Linked DNA regions of Homo sapiens: region 2 is linked to region 1. A link means that fine-mapping ties the variant in region 1 to the expression of a gene that starts in the linked region. Tissue or cell type: whole blood. Region 1 holds a variant in brackets; the other region holds the start of a gene. All regions are shown on one strand. Distances are between the middles of the regions.

Region 1 (8,107 bases):
TACGTGTTGTTGTCCATAAGTGTACTTTAGTAAATCTATCACATACTTCTATAAAAGTTTTCAAAATTATTACATTATTAATAATAAAGATCACTTAAAAGTTTTGAATGTCTATGAGCATACACAGATGATGTAATATTCAGTGCTCATCATATGCACACAATTTCTTATTTTATAACTGTATAGATATATAAGATTACTATAAAGAAAATATAAGGTGGTGATTATAATTTATTTTTCTAATCTAATTGGACTCATCATTACAACAGGTAAAATACTATAGATATGAAGCCAACTTTCTTGCTCATAGTTGTTCTCATGTACAGCTACTTATGTTCAGCCTCCCAAGTAGCTGGGACTACAGGTGTGCACCACCACACCCAGCTAATTTTTGTATTTTTAGTATTTTTAGTAGAGATGGGGTTTCATCATATTGGCCAGGCTGGTCTTAAACTCCTGACCTCAGGAGTTAAGCACATTGCTAAGCACTTGACATACACTGTTCATCTTCATAACATTCTTATGAGGTAGCTACTCTTGTTATGCACATTTTATAAGAGAGGAAATTGAAACTTGGAAAATGTGAATAACATGTAAAAAACTCACACAGCTAATAAGTGGTAACGCTGGAACCTGAACCTTGTATGTCTTACTACAAAGTCTAGGTACTGCTGGGCATGGTGCCTGTATTCCCAGCACTTTGGGAGGCCGAGGCAGGAGGTCTGCTTGGGCCCAGGAGTTTACCACCAGACGGGGCAGCACAGTGAGATCTCATCTCTACAAAAGTTAAAATTAAAAAAAAAATCAGCCGGACACATGGTGTAGCATCTGTAGTCCCAGCTATTTTGGAGGCTGAGGTGGGAGGATCCCTGGAGATTGTGGCTGCAGTGTGAGCCATCCAGCCTGGGTGACAGAGCGAGACCCTGGCTCAAAAAAACAAACAAAAAACCCCACAAAGTCTGGCTACTTAACTACTTCTATAAACCGTCCGTAAGTATGCAACTGAACCAAGAAGAACATAAGATTCTTTACACATAGCTCTCTAGTTTGAGAGGGCATTTAGTAGGCTCAACAGATAGGAATGACACGTTACTAAACACAAATTTCCACTCACAATTAAATTTTGACCTAAGTCATATACAGACAAGACCATAATTCACAGGTCTATTCCACAAATTCTCCTGAGAATAATTTGTGGTTTTTCTCAGGATTCTCCCAAACTTGGTCAGGGCTACCGAAAAATATGAAGGTAATATATACAGAAGTCCTCTTATCCTACACCGACAGGGACTAGTAGCGGATTGGTTTTTCTAAAATGTTGCAAATGAGCAAAGAAAAAGTTGGTACATGTATTAAACACTTTCCCTTAAAATATAAATGTACATTTATTAAACAAACTCTTGCTGTAAGGCCAAGGCCTTTTGTTTGAATATGAATTCCAACTTTTCTTTTTTGTGTAAACTGCACTAAAATGTATAATCTAGTCAATTTTTTCAAAATAAACCAAATCTTAGACAACCTAAGTAAAGACAGATTTTTAAAATACCTTCACCCAAATTCACTGAAAATTTATTTTTAATTTTTGGGGGTACGCAGTAGGCATATACATTTGTGGGGCGTATGAGTTATTTTGATACAGGCATATAATGTGTAATAATCACATCAGGATAAATGGGGTATCTATCACCTCAAGCATTTATCCTATGTGTTAGAAACAACCCAATTATGTTCTTTTAGTTATTTTAAAATGTACAATTATTATTGAGTAGTCATCCAGTTACAGCATTTTTTTAGCACCTTACTTTTATTGATATTGAGTTTTTCCAAAGCTTTTAACATAATTTTCCTAGAAACTCTTTTATAGGTGCTTTCTTTCTGTATTTGTATCTAACATATACATAATTTAATTATATTATCATAATAAGAAGTACAATGGGCATTAACTTAACTGCCTCTCATTAAGTAAGCACAGGCCACCACAGGAATAACAGAAGTACCCAGGTGCATTAGAAGGTAGCCTACTGGCCTCTAATATACATCTTGTCCTGACAACAGTCAGTAGGTGTCACAAAGGGAATGAAAACTTTAATCCTGCAAGTGATTAGGGGAAGGTCAGTTAAGAAATCTTCTCTTCTAACTGGTAGAGTTAGCTCACAGTGTGCAGGGCATGGTAATATGCAGAACGCAAATAAAATGAGAAAGGTCTGAGAAGTCTAACAACATTTTCATATGCCACCATGCTTGTAAGGCACTAATTGTCAATATTTAGATTTGGAAATAAAGCAGAGTATAAAATCCTGCCAGTTTCTTATGGTGACTAATGAGAGCCAGTGCCCATAACTGAAAGGACCATGATGGAGTAAGAAATTAAAGCATGAATAGATTTTCATAAAGAAATCATTTCTACTTTGTCACATTTCAGTCTCTAATCTATACAATTTTTGTGACATTTTACTAGCTATTTTCTCAATAATAAATGATTTGGGAAGTAAAGTGTCAAAAGCATAAGAGAAACATAAAACTATTTTGGACAGATGAACCTTGATAAGAAATGTCTTTTCAAAATCCAAGGCATAATCTGGAAAAATTATATAATTAGAATTAAAGTCAAATTAAAATTAAGTTAGAAGTAGAAGAGGTAGCTCATAGTTCAATGTCACATTGTATAAACAAATGAAATATCATTTAAAATAAGTATAAACTAGACTAGACATTAATATATCTACAAAAATGGTTCATTAAAGCAATGATTTATCCCCAGAATGGAGAAGGGTAGAAAATATTAGACATTTAGTACCATAAGAAGAATTCCTTATTGAACACAACAGAGAATACCCAGCGGTAATAACAAGAAAAAACAGCAAATTTTAATCGCAGTGTTGACAAGCTAAATCTGTCCATTTTTTGGTACTTAAAAATGAGAAACTTAGTCATAACTGCAGTATGTCCCCAGCCTCAGGCTTAGGTAAGCAGTACCTTATATATCAGCAGTACCTTTTACATTATAACCTTTCAGTAATAAGCTTTAAAAACAGGTCAAAATCAGCATGAAGAGAGCTATT[T/C]CTTTCTTTTCTAGGCACTATAATACTGTTAGAGTCCTAAGAATCAGTGGGGGGTGGGGAGGTAAAAGGAACGTGACTCATGTGTCATACTTACTTCTAGCCTCAGTTGTAAAGTGTTTACCATCACAAGTCTGATCAATAAATAAAACAGTGAGTCACAAATTTTCAAGATCTCACTTTAATAAAACCTTAGTGAGTCGGGCATGGTGGCTCATGCTTGTAATCCCAACACTTTGGGAGGCCGAGGCAGGCTGATCACCTGAGGCTAGGAATTCAAGACCAGCCTGGCCAACACAGTGAAACTCCATCTCTATTAAAAAATAAAAAAATCAGCCAGTGTGGTGGCATGCACCTGTAGTCCCAGCTACTTGGGAGGCTGAGGCAGGAGAATCGCTTGAACCCAGGAGGTGGAGGTTGCAAGTGAGCCGAGACTGCACCACTACACTCCAGCCTGGGCGACAGAAGAAGACTCCGTCAAAAAACAACAGCAGCAACAACTAAACCCCCCACTAAAAAAACCTTAGTGAGTAAAGGCTCTTAACATCATAATAGTGTTATCTGCTTTGGCCTGCTTAGCCGAAGGCATTCAAGCTAAGAATATTATTGAAGCTCTAGGTAAGTGCAGGATGTTTTATTGATTTATTCAGTAAATATTTATTGAACATCTACTATATGCCAGGCATTGTGCTAAAGACTGAGGATATAATAATAAAAAGGACAAATACTCTCTCTCCCTTTTAGGGAGACAAGACGTAAACCACACAAATACTAAATAATAACAGCAATAATTGAGCACTTATTGTGATCAAAACTGTTCAAAGTCATTCACTCATGTAATCCTCATAATAACCCTAGGAAGTAGTAGGTACTATTACTACCTGCTTTTTGCAGATGCGGAAACTGAGGGAGAGGTTAAGTTACTTGCCCAAGGACACAGAAGTAAGGCATATCAGTCAGAATTCAAATCCAGGCAGTCTGGCTCCAGAGTACACAAACTATGTAAGATAAGCTTACGCTACATTATATTGCTAACTAATTTAAAACTTAAATTTGTAATAAATGCTAAGATGAAAAGGCCTGCTGTGTACTGAATGTATAATTTTACCACAATTATATCAAAGCTTCTCATTATATCATAACAATGTGACAATATATTTATCATACTTTTTTGGTAAAGGGTTCTTTTAAATAAAACAAGGAAGGAGAAACTACATACTTATCAAGTGTTTTGGACTGAATATGAAACCAGTTCCCACAGGAAGTAATATAAACTCACAATGAAATACTCTGAACATTAATGGTTACAATATTACTGTTATCAGGAGAGGACACCACCAGTATCCATTTGACAGCAAGATGTTTTCTAAATCCAGGCATGTTTATATTGTCATATAAATTTAAGCCTTCTGATTCAAGTTGTAACTACTCTCTGCTCACTTAAAAAACTCAGCCTACCTAGTAAAGGTAAAAAACGGCTTCCCTTCTCAACAAAGAAAAAAAGGAAAAGTACACAGGACTTTAAAGAAAGGTATAGAGAGATACATAGGATCATGCAGTTGCTATTAAGTGACAGCATCATCATCAACTATCATTATTGGACAGTTACTATGTACTAGAGGCTGTTGTAAGCATTTTTCCTGTAAAAATTCCTTTAATTCTTACAAATCCTAAGGGAGTTGTTATACTCATTTCACAGATGAGGAAACTGAAGCACAGAGAAGTTATACAACTTGCCCAACGTCACACTGCTAGTAAGCGCAGGATCTGAACTATTACATCATATTGCAGGAGTTAAGGTAAAACAGTTAACTGCTTTAGGGATCCTTTCAGCTATCTTAACGAGAAATTTACTGGAGTAAGGATGTTGAATGGAGAAAGAGAAACATTTCATTTTTAAAAGTCTTAAAGAGTCCTATGTATCAGTGGTCCCCAATCTTTTGGGCACCAGAGACCCATTTTGCGGAAGACAATTTTTGTTGGGGGTGGGGATGGTTTTGAGATGTAACTGTTCCACCTCAGATCATCAGGCGTTAGAGTCTCATAAGGGGCAAGCAACCTAGATCCCTCAGATGTGCATTTCATAATAGGGTTCATGCTCCTGTGAGAATCTAGTGCCTCTGCTGATCTGACAGGAGGCGGAGCTCAAGCAGTAATGCTTGCTCGCCTGCAGGCTCACATCCTGCTGTGCCGCCCAGTTCCTAATAGGCCACGGACTGGTACTAGTCTGCAGCCTGAGCGTTGGGGATCCCTGCTACATGTGACTATATATCACAGACACCAAAAAGCAATTAGAACTCTAAGAAGTGTATTTGACTGTAAGTTTCTCATTAAATGCTTCCTTCTCCCACCGATTTTATGTAGCCTCTCTCTTTCTTTCTCCTCTTTAATGAAACAGAATACAAATATTTGCCAAATGTAGACCACTGCAGCTAAGAGTTTGGACTACAGTTCAGGAGAGCAAAAGGCAGAATCATATGTCAAGAAAATCATGATCCTAGTCACTCAAACGGTTCCAAGCCTCAGTTTCCAGCAAAAGTTACACCATCTTGGTTCCTTCAATATCTTTCATACTGCTCCTTATTCATCTCATTTGTTTTTTAAAGTGGGTTTTTCTCTTTTGGTCCCTTAGGTTGTATTTCTTAAGATTTACTTCTTGATCCCCGAGAACAGATACTGAAGTTAGAGAGAGGTCTAAGTTGGAGCTCTGATCTCTTATGCCTAAATTCTTCATGGTTAGCCTGATTAGGTCTTGTTTTCTTCATAAATAAGATTAGGGCCATAATAATTCAAAGTGCCAACGAAAAGACAAAATGAGTAAACATGAAAATTCCTCGTAAATTCTTATGAAATATTTACTTTCTACCTTTTCTATTTGTTCAATTCGCATCCTAAAGAGACCTTATGGCCGGGCGCTGTGGCTCATGCCTGTGATCCCAGCACTTTGGGAGGCCAAGGCGGGTGGATCACAAGGTCAGACATTCAAGACCAGCCTGGCCAAGATGGTGAAACCCCATCTCTACTAAAAATAAAAAAAATCAGCTGGGCGTGGTGGCAGGTACCTGTAATCCCAGCTACTCGGGAGGCTGAGGCAGAGAATTGCTTGAACTCAGGAGGCAGAGGTTGCAGTGAGCAGAGGTTGCAGTGAGCCAAGATAGTGTCACTGGACTCTAGCCTGGGTGACAGCGAGGCTCCATCTCAAAAAAAAAAAAAAAAAAAAAAAGATTTTACCTACTCTACAGTTTTAACTATACTCTCTACGGGTATAACTTCCAAATTTACAGCTTAAAACCTTACTTATTTTCAAAGTGCTGAAAACACATTTCCCCTTTTTCTTTTTTTTTTTTTGAGACAGAATCTCACCTTGTCGCCCAGGCTGGAGTGCAGTGGCGCAATCTCGGCTCACTGCAAGCTCCGCCTCCCGGGTTCAAGCAACTCTCCTGCCTCAGCCTCCCCAGCAGCTGGGACCACAGGCGCCAGCCATCACATCTGGCTAATTTTTTTTGTATTTTTAGTAGAGACAGGATTCCACTGCGCCAGCCAGTATGGTCTTGATCTCCTGACCTTGTGATCCGCCCGCCTCAGCCTCCCAAAGTGCTGGGATTACAGGCGTGAGCCACCGCGCCTGGCCCACATTTCCCCTCTTATATCGTCCTACCACCCTGAACTCAATGTCTATCAATCTCTTAAAATCAGCTATCTGTCTAAGCTTTTCCTATTAGCAAAGCCATCATTTTTCTTCTTAAAATTGTATAATCATCTTTGGCAGATCTTTCATATTCCTGTACTCTATAGCTGGCCAGTCACCAATCTGCTTATTCCTCCAAAATCTTTTTCTCTTTATACATTTTCCATGGCTACCATGTTAGGTTATCACTGCCCTAATGGCTTCGTCATTTTGGTCCCAGTTGTCTCTTCCAGAGCATCCTTCATGAAACCTCTGTTCCAGACAAACTGATTTATTTACCACTTGAATGCATTTTGTACACTTTTGCTTCTGAGATTTTACTTAAGTCACTTTACCATTTTACTTTCTAGTCTACATAATAAACAATATTTTCTCCAATTTAAAAAACACACTCATCTTTAAAATATTAAAGCAAAGTATAATTTATCTGGGGAATCTGAGTAAATTATGTTTCCATAATCTTCTGTTTTTGTTTTGTTTCTTTTTTGAGATACAGTCTCACTCTGTCGCCCAGGCTGGAGTACAGTGGTGTGATCTCGGCTCACTATAACCTCTACCTCCCAGGTTTCAAGTGATTCTTGTGCCACCCAAGTAGCTGGGATTACAGGCATGCACCACCATGCCTGGCTAAGTTTTGTATTTTTAGTAGAGACGGGGTTTCACCATGTTGACCAGGCTGGTCTCAAACTCCTGACCTCAAGTAATCCACCTGCCTTGGCTTCCCAAAGTGCTGGGATTACAGGCATGAGCCACTAGACCCAGCCATGTTTCCATATCTTCTGGAGTGCTAAGATGATTTCTTTCATACTTCATTTTGTGCAGTTAACCACTCTTCTTTCCTTCTAAATGACATAACTTTCTTTGGTCAGTTATTTCCTAAAGCATGCTCCTTGGAACACTTACTTGTTCCACATGGTTTTGCAGGGGCATGTAAGAAATAAAGTGTCTGCTGTCAAGTTTTAGAGATGCTAGATTAAACAATTAAAAAGTTCCCTTTATTGTAGGACTTCTCAGGCTTTAAAATGCTAAACCGTTTCTCTATCATCATTCTTCTCTAGTTCCGACATGAAATATTCCTTTCTCATCCCACTACAGCTTAACTCAACTTCAAACCACTATTCACTTTTTTGAACTGAGTAAGCCTTCCAGATTCAACCAGATTGAGTTTTTCATCCTTGCCTCTTGATTCTCAATCTCTTTCTCCAGGGAAATATGCACCCTCCCCTCCCCCTCTTCCCCCCTCCCCCCGCAAGAGATGAAGTCTCACTCTGTGGCCCAGGCTACAGTGCAGTGGTACAATCACAGCTCACTGCATCCTAGAACTCCTGGGCTCAAGCGATCCTCCCACCTCAGCCTCCCA
Region 2 (8,098 bases), 160 kb after region 1:
ATGCATTTCTTTTATGCACACTTGTTCTACCATATATTCAATCAGTACCAACTACCCTAATAGTCCCCTTTGAAATGACTGGATTAGTATACTCCTTTCTAGGGTCTCCTTCCCTCTCCATTCAAAATAATTCATACTCACTTAAGAAATAAAGAGCAAAGGCAGTTATGGGGAAAAGAAGAAAAAACAGAGCTAGCGTGGGACAGTCAAGAATTCATGATGGAAGAGGGAAATAATCTATTAATGTTTAACAATGTTAGTAAAATCCTAATTTGCAAACCAAATTAAGTTTTACAAGTGAAGTATGCTAAAATGAACTACCAACCAGTAACCAATACAAATACAAAGCATAGTCTGAGTGTATGACAATTTATTAAATATATTAAATTACGTAAGCATATATGCTGAATAAGTTTTAGCCATAAGCAGTAGATTATATTGAATTCCCATATCAACAAATGTATATAAAAAGGGAAGTGTTTGGTTACATGAGATATGCAATTCGCAGCACAATAAGGAAAGGTTTCTGTTGAAAAAGAATGGCAGAAGCAATTTGGCTAAGAGAAGAAAATAACTATTATAATTGTGAAAGATGATGTTCCATTTCTTAAACTGGGTAAAAGGCATGTAAGTGTTGGCTGCATTGTGAAGTCTTTATATTTTACACATTTTTATAAATACTTTGTCATATGTGGTCAATATCTTATAAAACAATGTTTAAGTGTGAGAAAAATCTGAACAAACATTTGTTGACATTAGAGGTAAAATGTACATAGGCATCTAATCCATTTGTGCTAATTATGGTAGTTTTTAATATAAATGAAAAAGAGGTCATAAAAATATGAGTAGGAAGAAAAATATTGTAATTTATCCTTAATTTCCCTACAGAAAATAAGCAGTAAAGGTTTACTGGTGCTCTTAAAAAGGCTGTGTGTGTGTGTATGAATGTGTATTTATATACACACACACACACACACACTATATTAAACTACTTGAAATTAACTTTTTACCTCTGAAGTTCCCTTCAAACCAACCACCATCACAAATATTTCCTTAACCACATAAAAAGTACTAATACTCCTCTACGCATAATCCCAGAAATAAGTTAAAAAACAAATTCCTAAAGAGAAATGTTCACACTGCAAATAACTGTATCTTTTGTATATATGCAGACTTAACATCTATGTGAGTTGTCCAGGTTTATCCACATCTATTGTACTTGCTTTATGATGGGCACATGCATTTTAATTATGCCTTGCCAATACTACCTTGAGTGAGAGGGCAATATAGCATATTGATGAGGAGCACAGGTTCTGGAGCTAGCATTCCTAAATGGAAACTTAGCTCTTCTACTTCTCAGCTATATAGTATTGGGCAAGTTATTTAACCTCTCTGTGTTTCAGATTCTCATCTGTAAAACAGAAATAACAACACATACCTCATAGGGTGTTGGAACTGATTAAAACAACGTACAACGGGACTGGCAAAGAATAGGTGCTACATAAATGTGAGCTGTTACTACTAGTACAGCTGGCCCTTGAACAACATGGGCTTAAACTGTGCTGGTCTACTCCTATGCAGATTTTTTTCAAGCAATACAGTATTCATGGGATGCAAAAACCGAGTATATTGAGGGCCGACTTTTCCCTATACATGGTTCCATACACCAACTGCGGGATTTGAGCATGCAAGGATTTTGGCATATGTGGGGGTCCTGGAACCAATCCCCTGCATACAATAAGGGAAGAATGTAGTAGTAATTGTATTGCACCCTCTTCCTGAAAGTACCAAAAACATTCTTAAGCAATCTGAATTCCTAACATCAAATGCTACCTATATTTAAAATAGACACCAAATCTGAGGCCTGATTAACAGTAAGTTTAAAGCCCTTCAACTCTGAAGAAAATAGGTGATTCACAGATCTACATAATACTCTATCAAGAACAATCTGAGAGGACTGGTTCCCCGAGCGCAACTATCAATTTCTTCCCTTACACAAGGGGGCAGTGATAACAAGAAAAGAATCGGGCTCTGTAACACCTCTTCCTACAGACAGTAGGGGGTGGCAGTACATATGGCTTACAGTCAGAACAAAACAGGAAGACCCAACAGAATTCTCTTTATTCTCCTCTGGCCCTTTCCTCTGTTCTTCAGCCCCAACAGCTTCTCAAGGTAAGGGACATATCTACAGAAAAGACTAAAACCCAAAATCAATCACCAAGGAAAATCTATTTTTGTCTTTGAAGCAAATGATCCCTCAATGGCTGAATTTGGATCTAAGGGAAAGCCAATCAGTATGAATTTTCAGATTATCTGGCAAATTACTATAATGAGAACAGCATTCACACATGTAATTTAATTTCTTTACAAGAATTATAACATAAAACATTAAAATCTCATCAATAATTAAGTACATTCTAACGAACACATTTCCATATTTCTGCTTTTGTTATATAGTATATTCACACTCATTGTATGTATACATATAAGTTACATTAAATAGATCATGGAGTTGTCTTTTGTTACTTCTGAAATTCCAGCTATGTTCTGACAATCCTCTCGAAACAGATGTTCTTAAATGGAAGTCACAATGTTTTGCAGCATGTTGGTAATTTCTTATGTATGTATAATATACATGCACATATATCTATATAGAGACATAAATAAATATCTAGATACAGAGGGGAGCAAGAGAGAGGGAGAAAGAGAATGTTTAACGTTTTATTTCGTGCTCACATCCCTAAGAGGATCTACCTGGGAAATGCTGCAAGAAGCACTCCACTGACAGTATCCATGTTGTTGCTTTTTATGCCAATTTACTGTATTCTTTTTTTTTTTTATTTCACCATCCCAACACCAAGAACATACAAGAATATTTTAGTACTGCCGTTCTCTATAATTAACCATTGTGATAGATACTGGCTCCAACCCCTCAAAATGCCTGAAAATCTATCCCTTTTGTTCACCACACTGCTTTGTTTTCCTCATTACAGATATTTTCACCTGTGTAAAAATCAGGAAAAGGGCACATACGAAAAATACTTCCCTTTGCCTAATGATCTTTAACTCATAATTATGGTCAAGACGTTTGGGGTTTTGTTTGTTTCTTTTCCTGGAGAGGAGCAGAGAAGAGAGTGAAAGACACCCGAAACACCAAATCTTCTTCCTAATGTTAATTATCATTGTTTATGTTTTGTGAAGACCATTCTAAACATTCCACACCTGGAAATGAAGACTGGATACAATTGTACCAATGCTCTACACGCTGATGGCAAAACCTGGAATTATTTTAGCCCTATTTTTTCTTTCCAATCTCACAGCCAGACACAATTTGCTTTTTTTCTTTCACGTGGTTACTTTCTCTACCTCAAAAAAAATAGCTTATCATAGCTCCTCCCGATTTCCTATGGCAAAATATCTAGCAATGAGCCTTATTAATCTTTTATTATGCTACACCTCCTTTCCCAGAGGAATTATTAATATCGCTAATAACACTTCGACCATGAATTTCAACGCCACAGAGGCCAGCCCATCCTGTGCCTTACCTGGCACATTTCGCAACTACTTTTATGCTGCATTCTGGGGGCACATTTTGCAACTCGTTCTGCACCACATTCCCTGCCACGTTTAGCAATCCGCCTCGCATCTTATCCTTGGTCCCCGTCATCCAGAGACGCTCTAGGTACCAAATTCCATGACATCTTCGGTGACAGCCAAGTGGCGACCCCACACGCCTCTGAAGCCCGCCTTGGTGTCATATTCGGAGCCAGCCTTCCCCACGCCTTGGACACCGAGGCACTTCGCTGCCCATTTCGCCGTCTCCCCGCTCGCCCCCGCCCCTCTCCCCGGAGCCGAGGCTGTGGAGGCGAACGACCCTGTCACTGAAGCGACCTTTCCTCGCCCTGCTCCCCGGGCCCCTTACCTGCCGCTCTGAGGGGCTCTCTGCACCTCCGGGTCAAGCCCCAGTCCCCGGGGTCTCCTGTGAGGACCGCGCCGCCCGCCGGCGCCGCCCGCGATTCCCGGAGCACCTCGCAGTCCTCCAACGCCCCGCGGCGAGTCTGCACCCCGGAACGGCGCGGCGGGGCCTCGCAGCCGGCGAGCGCAGCCCGCGGCGGTGCTCCTGTCAGCGGCGGCTCGGGGGCCAGCTCTCGCCCCTCGGCTCGGCTCGGCGGCGGCGGGCGCCTCGCTCCGCCTAGCGCGCGGCACAGCCGGGAGGTGAGCGCGAGGGGGATGGGAATGGGGGCGGGGCCGCCCGAAGGAGGCGCGGAGGGCGGTGGCGGCGGGAGGGCAGCGCCAGCGGCCCTAGGCCGGGCGCTCGGAGCGCTCGCAGCTTCCCCCGCCGGGCGGGCGGCTCGCGCGAGGCGGCTGTGCCAGCGGGCCCCGCCGGAGCAGCGCGCCCAGCAACCCGCGCCCCGCCGGCCGCTCGCTAGCGCCGCCGCCGCGCTGGGGGCGTCGCACCCTCTGAGGCCGCCCGCAGCCCCGCCCCCTCCGGGCTGGGGTGGGGAGGGGCGCGAGCGCGGAGGGAGCGCGCGTGCGTGGGGGCGCGTGCGTGGTGGAGCGCGCGCGCCCCCGCCCCTTCCACAGTTTGGGGGTGGGGAACGGCTGGAAGAGGGAGTGGGGACGCAGCCCTCCTCCGCGCGGAGAGACGGGGCCCTGGCTCTGGCGCTCTGGGATGTCCTGGCATTTCTCGTATCCCCGGGGGGCTCGGACTTGTGGGTGGCATTTGGAGGGGCAGCAGGGAGGACGCTCGGTAACTGACAAGGCCCTACATAGTTGGGCTCCGCCCTCAGGGGTGATGTCACTCTCGAGGTGGCTGCTGCTGTCACGTGCGCCCATTTCAGGGCCTGTCCTCCTGCTTTGATGACCGGAATGCTCTCCTAGATCTCCCCCACTTCGGTCACCTCAGGCACATATCACTCTGAGAGTCCTCGAAGCCTACAAGTGTCAGTTATTCTTTCCCGGATTCTCAGTGGTAGTTTGTAGACGACTTCAAAAGGCCACGGTTGGCTGTGGGGAGAATCAGAATGAGAAAGAAAAACAAAACAACAGTGGGGTTTGTGGGGAGACCGAGACTGTTATTTAGAATAATGGCTGAAAATTCACCAACCACAGCTTGCAAACCTGAGGTAAAGTCGTGGCGCTGCTTCTGTCACTGCCAGGTTGACTAAGAAGTAGCGTGGTTTTAAGAGCTGGTCGACAAGGGCGGGAAAGCCACCACATTAATACCTCGTCGAACGATGTTAGGTCATATTTCACCCTCCACCTAGATCTTCTTCCCCTCTACTGTTTCCCTCCTATCATAAAACAGCAAGTCGGCTGTGGGAGGTATTTGGGACATAAACATCATCGCGTGCTGCAAGATGATGCGAAGCAATCACCGTTACCAACTCTGCCCGGCTCGCCTTCCCTTCCATAAACTGAGATGACCTTTCGTGGTCATCCAACTTCTTAATCAGATGACATGATTGGAAATAGATGCGCCAAATTACATCAATCAAGGAAGCTCTGTCTGTGGCGCTTCCAAGGTAGAGAGGTTTGTTTGATAACAGCACTTTAATCTGCCCCATCCTGTAGCACTTCATCCAGGAGTTTCTTCGATTTTCAAAAATTAGTATTAATTTCAGAACAATACAAGAAACTGGATATGAACATGTCCATCCAACAGCTCTTCTTTACAGTGAATGCTTGCAAAGTCAGAGCTAGAGCAGCTTTGAATAATACAGCTAACATGGCAAGGTGAAGGGCTGACATATGGAATCTTTTGGTGTTAACTCCAGAAAGTTAGATTAATCTAATGAAAACCCATCTACCTATGGTATTAGAGGCAAGGTAGTGATTACTTACAGGGGAATTGATTGAGAGGGGACAGGAGAGAGCCTTCTGGTTTGCTGGAAATATTCAATATCTTAATGGTTACCCGGGTGTATACATATGCAAAAAGATCTGTGCACTTCATGTCAGTTTTTTAAAATCACATACACACAAAGAAGCATTACAATGTCATCATCACTGCAGTCGGAAAACCTCAGTTTGAATCTCAGTGTCACCCAACACTTACCTGCTGTGTGACCTTGAACAGGTCTCCGGACCTTCCTTTCTTCATCTGTCTAACGTGGGTGATATTAATACTTACCTCACAGATGGATGTAAAGATGAAACAAAATTTTGGAAAATACTTAGCACAAATCCTGTTACACAATAAGGACTCAGGAAACAGGAGCTATTATGTTATCCTTCTTACACTTGAATTTACCCTATTTAATTCTCCTTCGGTCTTTTTTTTTTTTTTTTTTAAGATTACTTTCTATCTAAGCCTTTCCCTGCGAGTTCCACTGAGGCTAATAACATTCCTTCTCTGAGAAATAACAAAAGGCAGTCAGGGGTGTAATGTTGGTTTTCAAACTAGTTCAGGTGGCAGTCTCTAGAAATTATGGTGCTCAACGTGGAGCATCATGAAATACAGATAGATTTAACTCTGCCATATGGAATTGACACAATTTTACAAGCACTAAATCTGGCAATTTTATGGTTATGCAAATCTCCACATAATCACATAATAAAAAAATGGGGGCTTTTTGTTGTTGTTGTTGTTCTTTTTTTTTGAGATAGAGTCTCGACCTGTCACCCAGGCTGGAGTGCAGTGGTGCCATCTCGGCTCACTGCAACCTCCGCCTCCCGAGTTCAAGCGATTTTTGTGCCTCAGCCTCCTTCCCAAGTAGCTGGGATTACAAGCACACACCACCACCCCTGGCTAATTTTTGTATTTTAGGTACAGATGGGGTTTTGCCATGTTGACCAGGCTGGTCTCGAACTCTTGACCTCATGTGATCCACCCAACTTGGCCTCCAAAAGTGCCAGGATTACAGGCGTGAACCACTGTGTCCAGCCAAAAAATAATGTGTTTTTAAGAAATAATATGTCTGTGTTTTTCTCTTTAAATTTATTTGCAACTTTTTTACAAGGTAGGAAGTACCAAAAAATTAATAATAATTCACAAAATGAAAACCTTTAAACCCATTTTTCCTGGAAATTAGAAAAACACTGTAATTGTTCAATTTTAGCAACAGAGCTCTTTATTGGATTTACCCACAGTAAGATCTGATAGCTGTAACCCACATGGTCCCCTGCGCTGATAAAGTGAGTAACTCTGACTCACTGTCCTCACCATACTTCCAAAGATCAGTCACCACTTCTTTTAGCCAACCTTTCCCAAATCCCATTTTCATGTGGGCAGTGTCCAGGAATGAACTCACTGCTTCGCTCTTTTGATCATCCACCATCCTTCTATTCTGCCAATTCTCTTCCAGGTCGTTCTACTGTCCAGTCTTATAATTTGTTGCCACACTCTAACTTTGAGGAGGAAACAATATGTCCCTGACAGAGTTGTGAGTGGGGTATAGTAGGGACAGAGAGCAACATTGCAGCAAGAAGCCACCTCTGTTCTCAACTCCTCTCCCTGATTCCCTTTTCTGTCACTATTACCTGAAATCCTGAGAATACTAATTTTATTACCTACTAAAAATCCATTCTAGTAAAGATGTTAGTCTATAACTTAAATTTGGAAATGTAACGTATGCCGTGTAATAAGAACCTGCAAATAATTGTTCATAATGTAGCCCATCCTTGCCCTATACCTCCCAACATTTTAGCATCATCTGTATCATTCAAAATGCCCTTTCTTGCCCTTTCAACTCTGCACTATCACCCACCTCTGCATATGGTGTCTTCCCTGGCTACCTCTAAGTCTCTCTTTCTTTCTTTCTTTCTTTCTTTCTTTCTTTCTTTCTTTCTTTCTTTCTTTCTTTCCTTCTCTTCCTTCCTTTCTTTCTTTCCTTCTTTTTTGACACAGGGTCTCACCCTCATCACTCAGGCTGGAGTGCAGTGGCACCATCATGGCTCACTGCAGCCTCTATTTCTCAGACTCAGGTGACCTTTCCACATCAGCCCCCTGAGTAGCTGAGACCAAAGGTGCATGTCACCATGCCCAGCTAATTTTTTATATTGTTATAGAGATGGAGTCTCGCTATGTTGCCCAGGCTGGTCTCGAACTCCTGGGCTCAAGCAATCCGCCTGCCTCAGCCTCCCAAAGTGCTGGGAT

What was found. PIP is the estimated chance that this variant, and not a neighbour inherited with it, causes the effect.
Region 2: it holds the start of TANC2, and the variant in region 1 is fine-mapped to the expression of TANC2 in whole blood (TOPMed, PIP 0.97).

Annotation. Positions count from the first base shown.
Region 1 is chr17:63,121,859-63,129,965 of GRCh38, reverse strand. All of the region lies in intron 4 of TANC2 (tetratricopeptide repeat, ankyrin repeat and coiled-coil containing 2), which reads right to left. Among named protein-coding and RNA genes, the nearest start is that of TANC2, 160 kb to the right of the region's middle. The variant T/C (reference allele first, on the strand shown) is at 3,063.
Region 2 is chr17:62,962,574-62,970,671 of GRCh38, reverse strand. It overlaps TANC2 (tetratricopeptide repeat, ankyrin repeat and coiled-coil containing 2), which reads right to left and starts at 4,437. Exons shown (of 28, transcript NM_001394998.1): 1 at 3,923-4,437. RefSeq lists a silencer at 4,361-4,550.